2 separate regions of the Homo sapiens genome follow, and region 2 is linked to region 1. Evidence: fine-mapped expression QTL. A gene starts in region 1. The other region holds a variant in brackets. All regions are shown on one strand. Distances are between the middles of the regions. Region 1 holds the start of LPP (LIM domain containing preferred translocation partner in lipoma). Region 2 overlaps LPP (LIM domain containing preferred translocation partner in lipoma).

What was found.
Region 2: its variant is fine-mapped to the expression of LPP in whole blood (INTERVAL, PIP 0.97).

Annotation. Positions count from the first base shown.
Region 1 is chr3:188,152,396-188,155,307 of GRCh38, reverse strand. It overlaps LPP (LIM domain containing preferred translocation partner in lipoma), which reads right to left and starts at 1,151. Exons shown (of 12, transcript NM_001375462.1): 1 at 1,056-1,151. It overlaps LPP-AS2 (LPP antisense RNA 2), which reads left to right and starts at 1,220. Exons shown (of 1, transcript NR_036497.1): 1 at 1,220-2,912. RefSeq lists a silencer at 944-1,283 and an enhancer at 1,716-2,616.
Region 2 is chr3:188,883,830-188,886,741 of GRCh38, reverse strand. It overlaps LPP (LIM domain containing preferred translocation partner in lipoma), which reads right to left. Exons shown (of 12, transcript NM_001375462.1): 12 at 1-2,912. Among named protein-coding and RNA genes, the nearest start is that of TPRG1-AS1, 62 kb to the left of the region's middle. The variant T/C (reference allele first, on the strand shown) is at 1,579.

The sequences.
Region 1 (2,912 bases):
CAAAAGCCCCAGAGAAGACCCTGAGTTCTCGCTAGTTGTTTTGTGTTGGGGGAGGGAAAGCAGTGGATCCCTTCTAAGGGAAGGGAAGCCAGAGAGATTTTTCAGTTCTCCTACGACTCCGAGGTTCCAAAGACTCTGCCCTGTCCAAGCACCCAGGCACAATTCCACTGATTAGCTCATCTCATATCACAACCTCCCCCATCCCCAACCCCTTGCCTCCAACTAAAGAATATTTATACTTTCATCTCCATTTCCCACACTACTTAGTCTTCTCTGGCCCACGGTTCCCTCGAAGAGATGTCTTCCTCCAAGCCGCTAGCTGGCTTCAGGAAACTCCTCAACCTCCAAAAACCCCATTCAGTGCAGGACTCTCCAAAAGGCCGTCCCAGGGACCAGAAAATCAAACCCCCTCCCTGGAACTTCCTTTAACTTTGTCCACGCCTTTGCTCCAGCACTTAGCATTTTCTACCCTAGGCCAGGTTTGACTCCCAGGTTCAACTGAGTTCCTTGAGGGCAACGTCCAATACACCCAGCACAGGGTCTGCCACACACAGGGTGCTAGAGAAATGCTTAGAGAAAGGGAACTTAAGTCCGGAGCCAACTATTTGAATTATGGTCTGGCCTCTAGTAAATAACTTCCGGGCGACCCTCCTTCTCTCTGGGCCTCAGCTGCCCCAACTGTAAAATGGGAGGACTTGGAGGACTGGGTCTAGGCCCTTTCCGCTGTGACAACTGTGATTCCGCGAAAGCTCTAAGCGGATGGGCGTGGCCCCGCCCCCTGGGCGCCCAGAAAAGTCCGGGCAGGGGGCGCGCAAGGCTCCAACCCCGCCTAGCCTGGGGTCGACGCTTTTGGAAAAACTCTGGGTCCCCCTCCCCCATGGCGTGCACCCCGTGATTGGGCCGCGGCCGGCACTTCCGCACAGCGGGCCAGGCCAGAGCAGGGCGCGCGCCCTGCGCTCTTGCCACCCCGGAGGCGCTCGCGCCGGGGGAGGGCTGGGGGTTCCCGAGGCGCCCGCGGGTGGAGGGTGAGGGGAAGGAAGGATTTGCAACAATACCTCAGGGAGGAGGCAGCCGGGGCAGCGGCGGTGGTGGTGGCGGCGGCGGCGGCGGCGGCGGCGGCTGGAGGCGGAGGCAGAGGCAGAGGAGGAGGTGCCCGGGCACTCCCCCTCCCATTGTCCCCAGCCCCGGACAGGCCCGGCCCCGCGCCCCACACTGGCCTCCTCGAGCGCGCCGCCCGCGCCCAGCGCCCCACGCCCCGCGCCCCGGGCCGTGCAGCCAGCCCTTACCTTGCAGCGCCCGGCTGTCTCCCGATCGCTAAAGCTACTTATCCCGGGAAAGCTCGCGCGGGACCCGGGAACGAACCCACAGACAAAAAGTGAAACTTCGGCAGGGCTGGAGCGGCTGCTGGTTGGTGCCTTTCCCCCTCCTTCCTCCCCACCGTCCCCACCCCCTCCCCTTGGTCTCCCGTGCGGTGCCCTGAGCGCTGGAGGCTGACGTCAGGGGCCTGAATTCCTGACTTTGCCTGCACGCATTTGTCCATGTAAGGTATGGGAAGGCGTGTGCCCGCGAAGCCGCCGCGCAGAGCTCGCCTGGCGGGGGAGGGGAAACCCGCAGCCGGCAGTGGCTTTGCCAAAAGGTGGGCGCACTGAGGGCATTGCATTTCCTGGGAGGAAGAGGAGGAGACGCGGGAATGCAGGGAGCTTGCAAAGGAGGAAGAGAAAGAGGGAGATGTGGAGACTTTGCCCCTGCTAGAGGAAGAGGAAGGAGACGTAGGAGGAAGCGGCCGCGTCAGGGGGCTCCTGGAAAATGGAAAAGCCTGCGTCTACTATTAAGGCGTCAAATTAGGGCACTGAGCTTGAGTGGAAGAGATCCAGCCATGAAATCCCCTTCCAAGATTTTCCTCGTGAGCCCCGCCCTGGATTCCCAGCAAGACTCAAAACTTACAAGGTGTCAGAGCTGGCAAAGACCAACTTCCAACCCGTCCGCTTGGCACGTGAGGAAACTGAAGCTCTCGGAAGAGAAATGACTTGTACAGGGTCGTCACTCAGCAGATCGAGGAGCGGGCCCAGGCGCTCTGCCTCCCACTTGGGTTCCCGCCTCCAGGAAGGGCCCTGGCTCCCTTTTAGCCCTGAGCCTTGAAGCAGGTTAGATGCCCGCGAGCTGTGCGGACCACCCAGTGATTTCTACTGCTCTTGGCCCAGAGCCAGTTCCTGGAAGGTCCTGGTTGACAGCGAGCCCTGAATATCAATGACAATCAGTTGCTTCAGGGCAACTTCCTCTGTCCTGTGCTCAAATAAATGAATCCCTGGAGTTTAACGTTTACTTCTGAGCCCCGCCCAGAAAGCTTGCTCTGTGCTTATAGCTTCAAAAAAGTCTGCGAACGAGATGAACTGGTTTGAATACAGACAAGCCTGTCATTGGAAGTTTTGAGTTGGATTTTTCTTTCCCCTCTGACATCTGTAAGGGTGAACGACGATGAGAACCACCACTTAACTGTGTTAGGGGATTATGACGCGCAGCAGCCATGGCCAGGAAAGCATTCCATACCCTGAGACTTCCTTTCCTTGCACTTCTCTCCTATTAATATCTAAAGTAATCCCTCACGTTAGCACATAATGAAAGCAGTCTCTCACCCGGCTATTGCATCTTCAGGTGAGTTAGATAGGACAGAGCGTAGTCCCCCCTTTACACCTCAGACAAAAACTTAAGAAACGTTACTCGCCCAACACAAAACAACTGACTGACCAAGCACCTGTCTTCCCCTCCTCCCATCCAGGTCTCCTGACTAATCCCTTCATCTTTCCATACCTGGCCCTGACCTCTAGCAGGACCTAATTCCATTCATAACTGTTGAGAGTACACCATGAGCTACTGATTCATAAAAACTCCAAAAAGTGGTTCTTCTGAGGATG
Region 2 (2,912 bases), 730 kb before region 1:
GTGTATGTGTGTGTGTGTGTGTTTTGAAGACAATACAATTGTATGATCCCTAAATATGGGAGAACATATTATGTAAAGTGAAATACGAAAATTTTTATTAGTTTTTTCTTTATATTATGTGAAGATAAATTAGATGATTTATAAAGGTATTTGAAAATAATGTTTTTCTAAAAGGCTGCTTTTTTCACATTTACCACCTCATTGTCTTTTTATTCCCTCTGATGAGACAACACAGATTCCACCCATGTGAGTCTCTACTCAGGCATACTAGATAATTCTGAGAAGTGCTCAAATTGTGTCTTCTATTAATCCATTCCTGGGGTGGGAATACTCTGTCTATTCGACAAGAATCATTTTCCACTCACTGGCCACAATATTCATCAAGCCTCACAGGGAGGTGAGGCACTTTTCTTTTTTTTTTTTAATTTTATTTCATTATTATTATACTTTAAGTTTTAGGGTACATGTGCACAATGTGCAGGTTAGTTACATATGTATACATGTGCCATGCTGGTGTGCTGCACCCATTAACTCGTCATTTAGCATTAGGTATATCTCCTAATGCTATCCCTCCCTCCTCCCTCCACCCCACAACAGTCCCCAGAGTGTGATGTTCCCCTTCCTGTGTCCATGTGTTCTCATTGTTCAATTCCCACCTGTGAGTGAGAACATGTGGTGTTTGGTTTTTTGTCCTTGAGATAGTTTACTGAGAATGATGATTTCCAATTTCATCCATGTCCCTACAAAGGACATGAACTCATCATTTTTTATGGCTGCATAGTATTGAACAGACACTTCTCAAAAGAAGACATTTATGCAGCCAAGAAACACATGAAAAAATGCTCACCATCACTGGCCATCAGAGAAATGCAAATCAAAACCACTATGAGATACCATCTCACACCAGTTAGAATGGCAATCATTAAAAAGTCAGGAAACAACAGGTGCTGGAGAGGATGTGGAGAAATAAGAACACTTTTACACTGTTGGTGGGACTGTGAACTAGTTCAACCATTGTGGAAGTCAGTGTGGAGATTCCTCAGGGATCTAGAACTAGAAATACCATTTGACCCAGCCATCCCATTACTGGGTATATACCCAAAGGATTATAAATCATGCTGCTATAAAGACACATGCACACTTATGTTTATTGCGGCACTATTCACAATAGCAAAGACTTGGAACCAACCCAAATGTCCAACAATGATAGACTGGATTAAGAAAAGGTGGCACATATACACCATGGAGGTGAGGCACTTTTCTAGTCTGTGAACGTGCATCTCAACCAAAGCCACCACTCTCCCGCTCCCATTAATGTCGCCCTTATTCCTCAGGCATGAGGACTAGGAAGGGGTGAGAAGTCATTTGCTATTTAACTTGGCTCTCATTAGTCCCAAGGAATAAGCAGGTGGATGATGATACTGGCTTGATGGATGATAACACTCCAGGGAGGGAAATGCATAAAACACTTATCAGGTGTGATTATTTTAAAGGATTCTTAGATTTAATGCAGGAGATTTAATGAGAAGAAATGATATTTTTTCTCTCACTTCACATATTTTAGGATATAGCAAACAA[T/C]GAAAGGAGTGAAATGAGAGGAAATAAAAAGTGGAAAGCACACCCTAAAGGTACAGCTTCCTGAGGGACGCAGCTCAAGAGAAGGAACACTTGCTTGCTGAACTGTTACGTAGAGCAACTTCTAGAGCATACATGGAGACTTTCTAGGAGGTTTTTTGAAAACAACATGGTACCAAATTCCTTGTAATTATAAAAAATCACAAAATGACAGCATCCTGGGAAGCAAAGTCTATCAAATGGCAAAGGCCAAATCTCAGAAATGCCAACAGTTCCATAACATTTGTTTTCAGACATTGTTAGCTCATGGATCGGCTCTATCGGAAATGCCTGTTGCAGCAACATGCACGTGGTGTGCTCTCAGTAAATGTGAATGGAGAGAAAGACTAAAATGCATTGCTAACCTACGGCGGTTTCTGCCTCTGTGGAACGTACATCGTGGTTCATGGGAGAGAGGCTTCTTTTAGGAATCGAGTCACCTCTACATGCCAATGAATTCTAAATGATATGGTCTTGGTTGATATTCTGAACCTGACAGTTCCAGAGAGGTTTTTGGTGAATGGAATGTAAAGGAACTCTCTCTGGGGAAATTTATTGCAATGTGCTTCCTTCTGCCCATTGTTTGTTCTTATCAGTGGCCTTTTCCCACCAACTTCCTCACAGTGCTGATCAGACAGAATACCTAGAGGTTTCCCACAAGAAGACACAGATGTGTGCAAGCTCTAAATGATCTCTAAAGACCGCAGTACACATGTGGATTTGCCACCTGGCAGTCAATTGGTCTCTGAATTTCCCTGGATGACTGGGGGCTTGGTAGTCTGTAAGAAGTCGATATTGTCCTCTAAGGTGTTCTCAGCTGTGAGCGTGGCTACTTGGAGACAGCACTGGACTTGCAAGACCTGGTTATATCCCCAAATCTGCCACTTCCCAGCTATGTCACAGCTTTTGGCAAGTCACTTAATGGCTTGAGCCTCAGCTTTCTCTTCTAGAATAGGGGTACTAATAACTGTCCTCCCTGCGCTATTTTCTGTGTGGAAGCAGTTTGTAAGCTCTCTTAGGAATTACTATTTTACAGCTCAGAAAGTTACCTCCAGGTCCTGCCCAGGAGACTGATGGCAGTTTCTGCTTACAGTGCTCTCTCATTCAAAGTTGGGGTAGAAGAAGCCACAATCATGGTCTTCCCCATGACAAAGGTATATTATTTAAACTAAATAGTCATCCAGAGCAATGAGGAAAGCATTTGTACATTTCCATAGAAAACTATAGCATAATAGAACCCCTCTCCTCAAGAACGATATCCTTTTCCACAGATGAACTAACTAGAAATAATGAGTTTT